3 separate regions of the Homo sapiens genome follow, and all the other regions are linked to region 2. The links come from fine-mapping of genetic effects on gene expression. A gene starts in region 2. Each other region holds a variant in brackets. All regions are shown on one strand. Distances are between the middles of the regions.

Region 1 (4,221 bases), 220 kb before region 2:
TTCAGATAACCAGTGGTCAGCAGATGAGGATGAAGGCCAATTATCCCGACTAATCAGGAAATCTAGAGACTCCCCCTTTGTCCCTATAGGTAAGTACAAGCCTTGACTGGATGCAGAAAACTGTAATAACACAATGATGCCTTACCCAGTGCCTTTGCGGATTGAAATGTTTCTTATAATTGAATTTTTTCAGATAATTGAAGCTAACCTCCTCTAAGCATGTGTTGAACTTTCAGAATAGTTCCTAATACATGGTAAGCCCCCAGTAAATGTTAGCTGTTATTTGAGGCATCAAATTTTATTCTATTTTATCCATTTCATTAGAAGTCTACCTAAAATTATTAGTTCCTAGCCAGTCAAATGGAATAGATTGAATGAATATTAACATTTCAGTCATAACTCAGGACCATCAACAGCAGCATCAGTTTATTATATTTAAAGCCTATTAGGGACTATTGAGATGCATATGTCTCTTTGTCTTGTAAGTAATCTAAACTTTAAGTTCTTACATCTTCTGTTTATAGATTTTTCTGTTTCTATCTTACTATTGGGCACATTAAAAACTTCTGCTTCTAGGCCGGGCACGGTGGCTCATGCCTGTAATCCCAGCGCTTTGGGAGGCCGAGGTGGGAGGATTGCTTGAGCTCAGGAGGTGCAGGTTGCGGTGAGCCAAGATCACACCACTGCACTTCAGCCTGGGTGACATAGTGAGACCCTGTCTCAAAAACAAACAAACAAATAAACAAAAAACCAAAAACTTCTGCATCTAATGTTTTTAATGCTCTGTAGCACCAGAAGCTAGATAACCAAGCTTGAAAGAACTGTGGGTCAATTCAGAGGAAAGCTCTGAGTAAAAGCCTGGATCTATCTGAACACTTGTGAGCATGAACTTTGGAGTGGTCATTTTGGCTGCTCAGTGGCCCTCTGTGCTGGCTTCTTGGTGTGCTCCAGGTGTTGAGTTTGATGGCAAAATAAATTCTGGACTAAAGAAGTGATACTATAATTAGGCCGGGCACAGTGGCTCACTCCTGTAATCCCAGCACTTTGAGAGGCCGAGGCAGGTGGATCACTTGAGGTCAGGAATTCAAGACCAGCCTGGCCAATAGGGTGAAACCCCATCTCTACTAAAAATACAAAAAGTTGGCTGGGCATTGTGGCACACACCTGTAATCCCAGCTACTCAGGAGGCTGAGGCACCAGAATCACTTGAACCCGGGAGGTAGAGGTTGGGTGCAGAGCGAGACTCCATCTCAAAAAATAAAAAAGAGAGATACTATAATTAGATCACCTAATAATCTGGACCCTTAGCCTCTTTATCCTTTCCCCACACATATTTAGTATGTTTACATTTTCAACAAGTATTATGTGTATGTGGACTTTAAAAAACCCCACAAAACCTAAGCACCAATATTATGTTTTGAAGTCTGAGCTTTCTCTTTCTTCTCCATGGATGTATACTGCAGCCATGCCTGTTTCCTTGTGTTCATTTTGTCTGGAAACTATTAAAATAGTTTACTTAAATCAGACTGACATAAGTTTGCAAAAATATTAATTCCATAAAAACTTCTAAATAGGTATGTCAGATGTTCCCGTTAAGTGTTACTCTGACTCTAGCAACTTCCTAAGTGTCATTATTCACATATCAAGAAAGAATCAAATTTTACTTTACAGTAATATTCTGTTTAGAAGTTTTAAGACTTATAATAGCACCCATAAGAAATGGAAGCAAATAATTTAATAGTGATTTATCTTCCTTAGCATTTTTAGTTAAAAAAAATTCGAAAACTCAATGCTACTTGAACAGATCACTATAATGAACAGAAATTAATTAATAAACAGAGACAAAGAGACATACGCACCACTGTGCCTGTTGTATATTAAATTATTTTTCCAGAGACATTTAGGATGATTAAAGTGGAAAGATAAAAGTGTTTCCAGCTAAATTCAATTATAAACAAACTAGAGACACTATATGGAAAACAGTAAAGGTTCTGACTTTAATCTCCAAAAGAAACAAAACCAATTTAAGTAAGAACAGAACTTTCATTTGATTAAGGGAATAGAGATAAGTTTTTGCTAAAAAATAAATAATGATAAAATTTGGTAGGCTGGGCACAGTGGCTCATGCCTGTAATCCCAACACTTTGGCAGGCCAAGGTGGGTGGATCACTTGAAATCAGGAGTTTGAGACCAGCCTGGCTAATGTGGTGAAACCCTGTCTCTACTAAAAATACAAAAATTAGCTGGGTGTGGTGGCAGGCGCCTGTAGTCCCAGCTCCTCAGGAGGCTGAGGCGGGAGAATCACTTGAACTCAGGAAGTGGAGGTTGCAGTGAGCCAAGATTGCGCCACTGCACTCCAGCCTGGGCAACAGAGCGAGACTCCATCTTAGAAAAAAAAATTGGATATATATCATTGAATAATTTGTTTAGCTATTGTCATTTTAACAATATCTACTATGTATTTTCCTGCTACAGGATGGAGGGTCCTATGCAGGTAA[C/T]TTACAAAACATTTTTTGTTGGTTATCTTAAGCAACTTCCATCATTATAAATATATTTACACTGTTCAAATCATCTTACAATCACTGTTAAGGTCTCTGCATGCATTATATCTATTTAAAGTATGTGTTGACAGATTATTTGGCTTTGCTTGTTTCACTTAACAGCTCATACGTGCATTTCTGTGTATTAATACTCCCTATTCTTATTTATTTTTATAGCAATGGCAGTTTTTCTTCTGTTTGGGTTATTTAGGTTTTCCTCAAACATAGTGTAGCCCTGAACATCTTTGTGTCATTTTCTTGATTTTTCTTTTGGTTATTTCCTTGGAGTATGTTCCCAGAAGTAGAATTTCCAGAGCAGGAAGCATGTTCAGTTTAATATCATTTGTTATATATTTCCAGAGTTCTTTCTAGAAGGACTTGGCCAAACTTACAGAGCTTTCAGGGTTTTACCTGTTTCCTCATATGTCTACCATCATCATTTTGTTATTTTTTTTTTTGCTGTTTTTATGTCTGTAGCACATTAGTCATTTTTATTTATTGTGGATCAGTGTATAAAATATACATGTAAATGTAATGATTTACTGATTCTTATTTCCATTTATTAAATGGATCATGAAAGAATAAATATATCCTTACCCACCCATAGACACACATATGCCAACATAGTTATTCCAAACATGCTATCCACATAAAAATTACTTGCTTTTTTTTCTTTTTTTTTTTAAAGACAGAGTTTCCCTCTGTCGCCCAGGCTGGAGCGCAATAGCACAATCCTGGCTCACTACAACCTCCACCTCCTGGGCTCAAGCGATTCTCGTGCTTCAGCTTCCTGAGTAAGCATGCGCCACCACACCTGGCTAATTTTTGTATTTTTAGTAGAGACAGGGTTTTACCATGTTGACCAGGCTGGTCTCAAACTCCTGACCTCAAGTGATCCATCAGTCTCAGCCTCCCAAAGTGCTGGGATTACAGGAATGAGCCACCATGCCCACCCAGCCTGCATTTCTTCTTTTAATCGATCCTTACATTTAGATTAAAATTTGCATTTCTATATACTAACAAGAAGCATCTGGAAACTGAAACTAAAAACATAATACCAACCAGGCATGGTGGCTCACGCCTATAATCCCAGCACTTTGGGAGGCCGAGGTGGGCAGACCACCTGAGGTAAGGAGTTCGAGACCAGCCTGGCCAACATGGCAAAACCCCATGTCTACTAAAAATACAAAAATTAGCCAGGTGTGGTGGCATGCACCTGTAATCCCAGCTACTCAAGAGGCTGAGACAGGAGAATCGCTTGAACCCTGGAGGTGGGGGTTGCAGTGAGCCGAGATCATGCCACTGCACTCCAGCCTTGGGCAACAGAGTGAGACCCTGTCTGAAGAAAAAAAACAAAACAAAAATGGAGAGACTACTGTATTCATGAATTGGAGGTGTGTGTGTGTGTGTGTGTGTGTGTGTGTGTGTGTGTGTGTGTGTGTAGTAGAGGCAGGGTTTTACCATTTTGGCCAGGCTGGTCCCGAACTTCTGACCTCAAGTGATATGCCTGCCTTGGCCTGCCAAAGTGCTGGCATTACAGGCATGAGCTACCATGCCTGATCCTGTGTTCCTGAATTGGAAGGCACTGTATATTGGTAAAGATGTCAATTCTCCCCAAGTTTATCTACAGGCTTAATGTAATTCCTGTCAAAACCCCAGCAAGGTTTTTGGTAGACATAGA
Region 2 (4,221 bases):
ATAGTCTTTATTATTCTAAGTAAAGATTCCTGAAGATGCTGAAGTATTAAATTCTCTCCCCCTTTTTTTTTTTGAGACGGAGTTTTACTCTTGTTGCCTAAGCTGGAGTGCAATGATGCGATCTCTGCTCACTGCAACCTCCGCCTCCCGGTTCAAGCAATTCTCCTGCCTCAGCCTCCCAAGTAGCTGGGATTACAGGCGTGCGCCACCACACCCGTCTAATTTTTTGAATTTTTAGTAGAGACGGGGTTTCACCATGTTGGCCAGGCTGTTCTCGAACTCCTGACCTCGTGATCCGCCCACCTCAGCCTACCAAAGTGCTGGGATTACAGGCATGAGCCACCGTGCCCGGCCTGAAGTATTAAATTCTAACTCATAATTTTACTTCAGTGAGGTAAGTCTACTTTGAATTGGCAGGAATAAAGGAACTTTATATAACTCTTAAAAGATCTCATTATCAGAATGAAAAATGCATCTACTTTCCCCCTAAAAAGCATCTTTCCCCTATGAACTCATAAACCCAATGAAAATGTTAAGTTCTAGTCTCTTGACTCACTTATTTAGATTAAGTCTTAATAATGCATTAGGAAACCCAATTATAGTCCATCTACCCCTAAGATGCAGCTGTTTCAACATTTCCATACAGGATTCTTACACATCTATAAATGAAATAAACTATACTGGAGGAATGAAGCAGCCAATGCATGCAACAAGTTATATAGGCAATAATGTTGCTTTCAAAGGAGTTTTTGTTTTGTTTTGCTTTGTTTTTCAAATGGAGTCTCACTTTGTTGCCCAGGCTGGAGTGCAATGACACCATCTCTGCTCACTGCAACCTCCGCCTCCCGGGTTCAAGCGATTCTCCTGCCTCAGCCTCCCGAGTGGCTGGGATTACAGGCCCGCGCCACCACACCCGGCTAATTTTTGTATTTTTAGTAGAGACGGGGTTTCACCACGTTGGCCACGATGGTCTCGAACTCCTGAGCTCAAGTGATCCGCCCGCCTCAGCCTCCCAAAGCGCTGGGATTACAGGCGTGAGCCACCGCACCCGGCCGAAAGGAGATTTTTCATCTGTTATCAACAACTGGCTTGATACATAAAGATCCAGAAGCATCTTAAGTTTTCTTCGTCACTTTTTCATTTCACAGCTTATGTTTTAAAAGTCAGAAATCCCAGAATTAAGTAAAGTCTTAAAGCAAGCTAGTGGTAAGATAGAGCTGTACGGACTTCTTCATCAAGGACTTCCATATCTTTCCAACAAGAAACGAACCAATATTCATCATTAAGCACCAGCTCCCAATTTCCCAACTTCCTAGATACCATTCCTATGCTATATGTAACCCTTCTTCACACAACGTCAGACTTACCCACACATACACCATCAGTCCCCAAGTCTCCCACATTGGCACAAAAGCCTCTCAACATTCATCTGGTTACTAATCAGGGACCACTTCCTTCTTCCACTGATTCTGCACAGGCTTCATATCGCCTACAATCGCTTTTTCCATTTCTTCCACAACACTAACTACTCAAAGCGACAAAAGAACAAGTCCCTTTTCCCCAATCGTAAACAGCTTTTTAAAACTCTATACACCTCCTTCCCACTCAACCCCTTTTCTTAGTGTCTATCCGCCTTTGTTATTCAGAAGGTGTAGGGTCTGGGAAAATCTCACTCACCTCATGCTATAGGCACCAGCACCCAGTTCCTGGCCGATCCCGGACAGGCTAGCATCAAAGTCCTGCACCAACCCGGATTCAATCACTTCGTCGGCCAGAGGCAGCTTCAGAGCCCAGGCCATCCTGGCTCCTTCCTTGCCCCAGGAGACACCGTGTCTTGTACAAAGGCGCGGAGGGTAATTCTACCCAACAGGAGTAACGCAAACCAAGAAAACTACAAACCAAGGTTTCCCACGCAGTGCCCACCAGCCACCCCCAAGCCCGACCAGCACTGCTCTGTGCACAACTAATCTCCCGTACCCTTGGCTGCTCGTTCTTGGCTGCCCCAGGTTCCAAAATCCCCCCTGCCCAGCTCTCAGGAACGTGAGGACCCCTTTGCTCAACTACTGCAGACTTCCCAGAGGCAGCTCTGGACTCCCGCACTCCCACTCCTCTTGAGAGTTCGTAGTGGTGGCTTGCTGCTTCCCAGTCAGACCAGCAGCAGCCGCAGGAAGCCAGCCCGGCGCTCCCACGCTGCTTTTGCACCTTTTCCCCCGCCCCTTTCTGCTGGAGGCCCCCTCCCTCCCAGGTCTCGCTCTCTCTTTCCCCTCCAGGCCTCGCTTCCGGTCAGTCCCACGATCACTTCCGGTCACCCCTTCTCAACCCCACGGCTTAGAACCAAATCCAGGTTTCCGCTGAGCCGACTTCTCGCCCTCTGTAGCCCCCCACGGCCTGGAAACATGGAAGGAGAAAGTCCAGCACAGGCGTAAAACCTAGACTCGCCAGGCCCTTCCACCGTCCGCCGCCCCAGCGCCAACCAATCATGGCGTCCTCTTTCCTCGCCTGCCCGGCGAACATGACGTCACGCTGTCGTTCGCCTATAAAGAAGAGACCGCGTCAGTCTCGGCAGCGATGATAGGCGGGCTGCGCCACGGCTCTGCCCCCGAGATGGGCTGGGCGATCACGGGGAGGACCCGGCGTGCAAGTGTCCGGGTTTAAACGTGTATCCGTGTAGTTACCAGAGTTCTGGTATTCGCTACCCATCAAGTCGTCACCCTGAGCCATGGAAGGAGCCCTTCTTCTAGCCTTATGAACCCACTCCACCCCTGGCGGACTCTTGACGGCTTCCCAAACGCTCCTTACGTGTGTGCGCTTGCTCCTGCCCATACTCCTGTCTCCTTAAACTCACCTCTCCGGAGGTCAAGACCCTGCATAAGTCCCACTTCCCTGTATATTCATTTTATCTTCGGCATCCTCTCTAATGCATTTGAACAGAAAAGCATGAGATCAGTAAAAATGTGGTTTTTAGGCCGGGCGCGGTGGCTCACGCCTGTAATCCCAGCACTTTGGGAGGCCGAGGCGGGCGGATCACCTGAGGTCGGGAGTTCAAGACCAGCCTGACCAACATGGAGAAACCCCGTCTCTACTAAAAATACAAAAATTAGCTAGGTGTGGTGGCGCGGGCCTGTAATCCCAGCTACTCGGGAGGCTGAGGCAGGAGAATCTCTTGAACCCAGGAGGCGGAGGTTGCAGTGAGCCGAGATCGCGCCATTGCACTCCAGCCTGGGCAACAAAAGTGAAACTCCGTCTCAAAAAAAAAAAAAAAAAAAAAAAAAAAAAAAAAAAAAACAGTGGTTTTTAAAAGGTTGTTGTGCTGGTATGGGGTGTTGGAATTTAAAAGATCTGAAAATCAGAGTTTAGGCTGGCGTCTTCATTTGCTACTTTGGTGTCTTCAGAACAATTGCTTAATGTCACAGATTTAGCTTCCTCGTTTGTAAACGGGAGTGGGAGTAACTTTATCTGCTCCACCTTCCTCCTTTGAGGATTGAGTAATAATGGCCATTGTTTATTAAGTATCAACTACTGCTAGGAACTTTATTACACTATGAGTAGTCCTCAAAGCGATCTTGGAATTAGAATTATAAAGCTAAATTTAATGACTCTTATTTTATCAGTAAGAAACCAAGGCTAAGCCCTTAAATTGGCCGGAGCTAAATTGACATGCCAGCTTCAGAGCTGATTCCAAAGCCTGGCATTTTTCGTTACAAGACATTGCCTTTATGTGAAAGTCTTGGTTCATTGTTGTATTCCGTTGCTGAATTTTTTAAAATCTGCCTTGACTTATACTTTTGTATATATCTGCCTCTCTCACTAGATTGATCTAAAGAATAAGGAATAGGTCTTTTTCAGGCTTGCGTTCTAAATATCTCCTACTATAGTTCCTGCTTTCAACAGGACTTTTAAACATGTTTATTGAATTTAAAAAGGAATGAAAAAGGAATAAGAGAACCAAGAAAAAGAGAGAAGTTGACATGAAGATGGCAACATGTTGTGCTGGTATGGGGTGTTTCAGCCACAGGCATCTCTCTGAAGGCTCCAGGCTTAAACCTGCCGTCTTACCTTGGTAAGCCCTAGGATCAAAGTCTTAGCTCATTCTGGAGACATTCAGTATCTCTTTAAGCCATCTTTTCTTCCCATGAGCCAGTTCTATCTCAAAATGTGTGACTGTGGATAAAGGAATGGGTCCTGGGCTCATAGACAAAAAGAGAGATGTCACATGGAGAT
Region 3 (4,221 bases), 27 kb after region 2:
TGGGGCTGGGCTGGTGGCCGGGGTTGGGCCGTCGAGGAGGCCTGTACTGGTGCGGCAGCTTGTACCGGTGCCGGAAGAGCGGTGTTCAGCACAGCAGCTGCTATGGAGCAAGGCAGAGACAGAGGTGCTCAAATGCCTAGCCACTGCTCACAGCGGCTCCAATCCCAAGGGATCTGGCACAAGAAGGAGAGGGGGTTGGGGCAGTGGGCTCAGTGGGGCAGGCAGCCACGATTCCCTTGATCCTTGAAGGGCTGGCGCACGCCAGCATCTCTTATCCCCCCTCCCTGGGGCCAGGAGATGTGTAGGTTCAAGAACCAGACGTTGAATCTTCTTGTAGTCCTTCCCAGGAGGCCGGTCATGGGGTGAGTTCTGGCGTGGGGGGAGAGGGGCAGTCTCAGACAGCTGGCCGAAGTACGGCAGGCCTGCGGGGCCAGCGTGGCGTCACGGCCTACAGTCCCGAGGTGGTGCAGCAGCTCTGCGGCCGGATGCCCAAGACACCGGATCCAGACTCCAGGGCGGTTGCCCTGGGTGGGCCGTGGGTTCTGAGTCCGACATGGCAAGCACACGTGCGGGGGTGTAGTAGAGGGTGGGGGGCCTGGTGCAGTCCTGGGAAGAGTTGCCGTTACCTTGGAGACCGGCTAAAGGTGGCTTGAACACTCCCCCCGTAGGAGAAGCAGCGGTCAGTCCTGGGAGGGCAGCCACAGTTGCTGTAGGAATTGTCCACACGGCCAGCCCCTGCTGACCAGCCACTTGACCTGCAATACTGATGGGGATAAGAAGAGGTTGAGTAACTGCCCCTGCTGGAACCATAACTCCTGTCAGAACTGTGGCTAAGTTTTCCTGAGTCAAGACCTGCAAAAGCAAACAAGATTTCAAAAAGAAAAGAAAAAATAAAAAATCAACATTGACAGCGCAAACACTGGGTCTCTGAGACCCAGCTGAGCACAAACAAAGCATTCTGAGGGCGATGGGCCGAAGGCCACATGAGGATGGGGAAGAGCCAAACCCTAGCTGGAGGCCCAAACCTGAGGGGGTGCCTGGACCGACTATCCTGCCTTCAGAGAAGTCGCCTAAATCCAGGGCAAGGCGGCCCTGCTCACAGGATGGGAAGGGGGCACAGGCCTCCCCCACCACAGCCTGCTGCCTGCCAGGCCTTCCGCGAGCCCTTGCTGACAGGCCCCGTGCTTAGTGGCCAGGGAACAGGGAGCAGAGGCTGATGGAACCAAGTGGTCAAGGCCCCGCAGAGGCTAATGGAACCAAGTGGTCAAGGCCCCGCAGAGGCTAATGGAACCAAGTGGTCAAGGCCCCACAGAGGCCTCCGAGAAGTTTCTGAAGGACCATACCCTTGGCTGGATGCCTTGGAGTCAGGGAATGTAGCGAAAGGGACAGGGAGCTCTGCCTGCCTGCAGGATCCTGAAGGCAGCCTCTCATGGTGCTGGGGCCACTCCCTGGCTCTAAATGAGGACTCTGAACAATCCATTAACTCTTACAGGCATCCACTGGAGGGCCGGCAAGGGTATTCATTCATTTAGTCATTTGATAAACAGAAACTCTGGCTGCGTGAAAGAGTTAATGTTATTTCTGCAATCCTGGCAGGCCCAAGGA[G/A]ATGATTCTGCAAATGTAGATCCCCTTTTCCAAATGGGCCTGATCTAGGCAGGGGTGAGGCTGGATGTGCCTAGTGGGAGAGTCCCTCCCTCAAGCCATAGCCCCTTCCCTGTCCTGCCCCCATGAAGTTCCCAGATTCCATGGCTTCCCCATGCTGGCTGTCCCATGCCTCGCTCCTGCCCCCGGCCTTCTGTCCAGCTCCCGAGGGCAGCCCTTACCTGGGGGGCAGCTTGTACAGCCAGTGGCGTCAGGGTCTGCGATGCCTGAGGCTGGCTTGGGGCTTGGCTGAAGGTGGCAATGGCAGTGGCAGGGCTCGGAGGGATCCCCGGGGGTGACTTCACTTCACAAGGCATTGAGAGAAAGAAGGACAAGGAGTGAGCCTGACGTGAGTGGAGGGGTCACCACAGCAGTACATGACATCCCATCTGCAGCCTGAAGCGGGGACCCTCAGCCCCATGCTGCATTGCTACATAGCCCAAGACCAATTGTTGGTCTTCCCTGGCCCATGAGGCAGCTTCCTGAATGCTACGGTGGTGAGGACAGGAGGCTGGGGAGCCCTGTGCCAGCTCTGGGAGGTAGGCCACCCCTTCTCACATCTAGCTGAAGAAGATACCCAGGTGAGTGTTAGCCCTCATTTCCTGGCCCTGTAAGGACTGTCACATCATCAACAGAGGAGTCTGAAGCACACGTGTGTCAGGGAGGGCCGGAGCTAGAAATGATGGGAGCGGCTGTCCTTGGTTCATCCTGCCACTGAATCGCTGTTCATCCACCTCCAGGGTACTTTTGGATGCAGCTGCTGAAAGGGCAGGAGTTCCTGAAGGGCAAAGTCCTGGAAGCAACAGTCCCTGAAAATTGGACAGGTCTGTGCTGCACTACAGGATCACAGGGGCTCTCCAGGACAGCCAGCTTTTCTCTGCTATTCCCGGAGGTCTAAAGTCATGTGAGCAGCTTCAGTGAGCTTCTAAATGAATTTCCCGTGACCTGCAGCTTTTTGCCTTCTCTTGGTACCTTAGCCTACACACGTACTGGGGTACCCCACCAGGAAACTTCTTCACAGCCATACAACGAGGAGAAGGGTTATTATTTAATATATGGTTAGTTAAAAGGAGCCTAGGAGTTGAGTGATGGATATAGGACCAGATCACTGGCTTCTTTTTATTTTAATTTAATTTTTTTTGAGATGGAGTCTTGCTCTGTCACCCATGCTGGAGTGCAGTGGTGTGACTTCTGCTCACTGCAATCTCTGCCTCCGGGGCTCAAGGGGTTCTTCTGCTTCAGCCTCCCAAGCAGTTGAGATTACAGGCGCATACCACCACGCCTGGCTAATTTTTTTCTTGTATTTTTAGGAGAGATGGGTTTTCACCATGTTGGTCAGGCTAGTCTCGAACTCCTGACCTCAAGTGATGTGCCCGCCTCAGCCTCCCGAAGTGCTGGGATTACAGGCATGAGTCACCGCGCCTGGCCAGATCAATGGCTTCTTAAAACTGCTGGGCATATATTTCTAGGCTTTAATCCAGGCCTACTGAATCAGAATGTCCAGTAGTGGAGGCTAGTTACCTCACCTCTCTTTTTTCCTTCAAAGCTCCCCCTGCGATATGGCCAAGAGTGGGAACCACTGAATCAGATAACCGCAAAGGTTCTGTCCAACCCTGCAGTACTAGTCCATGTTTCAACTTGGGAAGGCGTCAACCTCAACTCAGGACTATACTGTTCACAGCATGCAATAATAAAACCCAGGTAGTTTAAGGAATTCAAGAGACAAGCACACACCAACAAAGGCCTTATGAAATAGTAAAAGAAAACAAAATGACAGGTTTATCTCCTCTGTGGAGGGAAGATACATTTCTAACTCCAGAAAAAAAATCAGGCTGGGTGCAGTAGCCCACGCCTGTAATCCCAGCACTTTGGGAGGCTGAGGTGGTAGCATCACTTGAAGCCAGGAGTTACCAGACCAGCCTGGGCAACAAAACAAGATGCTATCTCTACAGAAAAAATAAAAATGAGTTAAAAAAAAAACAAAAAAATTAGCAAACATAAGGAGAGTCTGAACATGTGAAAATTTTAAAAACATTTTGTTGGACAAAATGTGACAAAGCATAACAAGTAAGTGAGAAAATGGGAAAGTGACAAACATAAATGATGAAAGCTTACCCTCTAAAGAAGCAAAATATTCATTTTATTAGGGCATATTTAGTAGGACCATGGAGTCCAAGGTTTTACATACATTAGGGCTGCTATTGCTTCCTGCAAGACTGTACAGAAAGACTAAATGAACTCACAGAAACATCAACAATGTACCTGTTTCTCCACAGCACCACTCAATATAGTTGTTTTTTTTTTTTTTTTTCTGAGACAAGGTCTCACTCTATCACCCAGGCTGGAGTGCAGTGGCGCAATCTCGCCTCACTGTAACCTCCACTTCCCAAGCTCAAGTGATCCTCCCACATCAGCCTCCAGAGTAGCTGGAACTACAGGCATGTGCCACCACACCTGGCTAATTTTTGTATTTTTTTGTAGAGACAGAGTTTTGCCATGTTGCCCAGGCTGGTCTCGAACTCCTGAGCTCGAGCAATCCACATGCCTCAGCTTCCCAAAGTGCTGGGATTACAGTCGTGA

What was found. PIP is the estimated chance that this variant, and not a neighbour inherited with it, causes the effect. A credible set is the group of variants that fine-mapping cannot tell apart.
Region 1: its variant is the best candidate, but not a certain one, in a credible set for the expression of TFCP2 in whole blood (INTERVAL, PIP 0.71).
Region 3: its variant is the best candidate, but not a certain one, in a credible set for the expression of TFCP2 in whole blood (TOPMed, PIP 0.68).

Annotation. Positions count from the first base shown.
Region 1 is chr12:50,954,004-50,958,224 of GRCh38, forward strand. It overlaps HIGD1C (HIG1 hypoxia inducible domain family member 1C), which reads left to right. Exons shown (of 5, transcript NM_001109619.4): 3 at 1-89. It also overlaps a transcript of SLC11A2 not described here. Among named protein-coding and RNA genes, the nearest start is that of HIGD1C, 3.6 kb to the left of the region's middle. The variant C/T (reference allele first, on the strand shown) is at 2,499.
Region 2 is chr12:51,170,624-51,174,844 of GRCh38, forward strand. TFCP2 (transcription factor CP2) reads right to left here and starts at 2,512. Exons shown (of 15, transcript NM_005653.5): 1 at 1,678-2,512. The coding sequence starts at 1,799. LOC124902933 (a long non-coding RNA gene) reads left to right here and starts at 3,932. Exons shown (of 2, transcript XR_007063307.1): 1 at 3,932-4,060. RefSeq lists enhancers at 1,795-1,844, 1,945-2,692, 2,785-2,834.
Region 3 is chr12:51,197,924-51,202,144 of GRCh38, forward strand. It overlaps POU6F1 (POU class 6 homeobox 1), which reads right to left. Exons shown (of 11, transcript NM_001330422.2): 4 at 1,824-1,945; 5 at 627-852; 6 at 1-100. Among named protein-coding and RNA genes, the nearest start is that of POU6F1, 18 kb to the right of the region's middle. RefSeq lists an enhancer at 1,891-2,390. The variant G/A (reference allele first, on the strand shown) is at 1,606.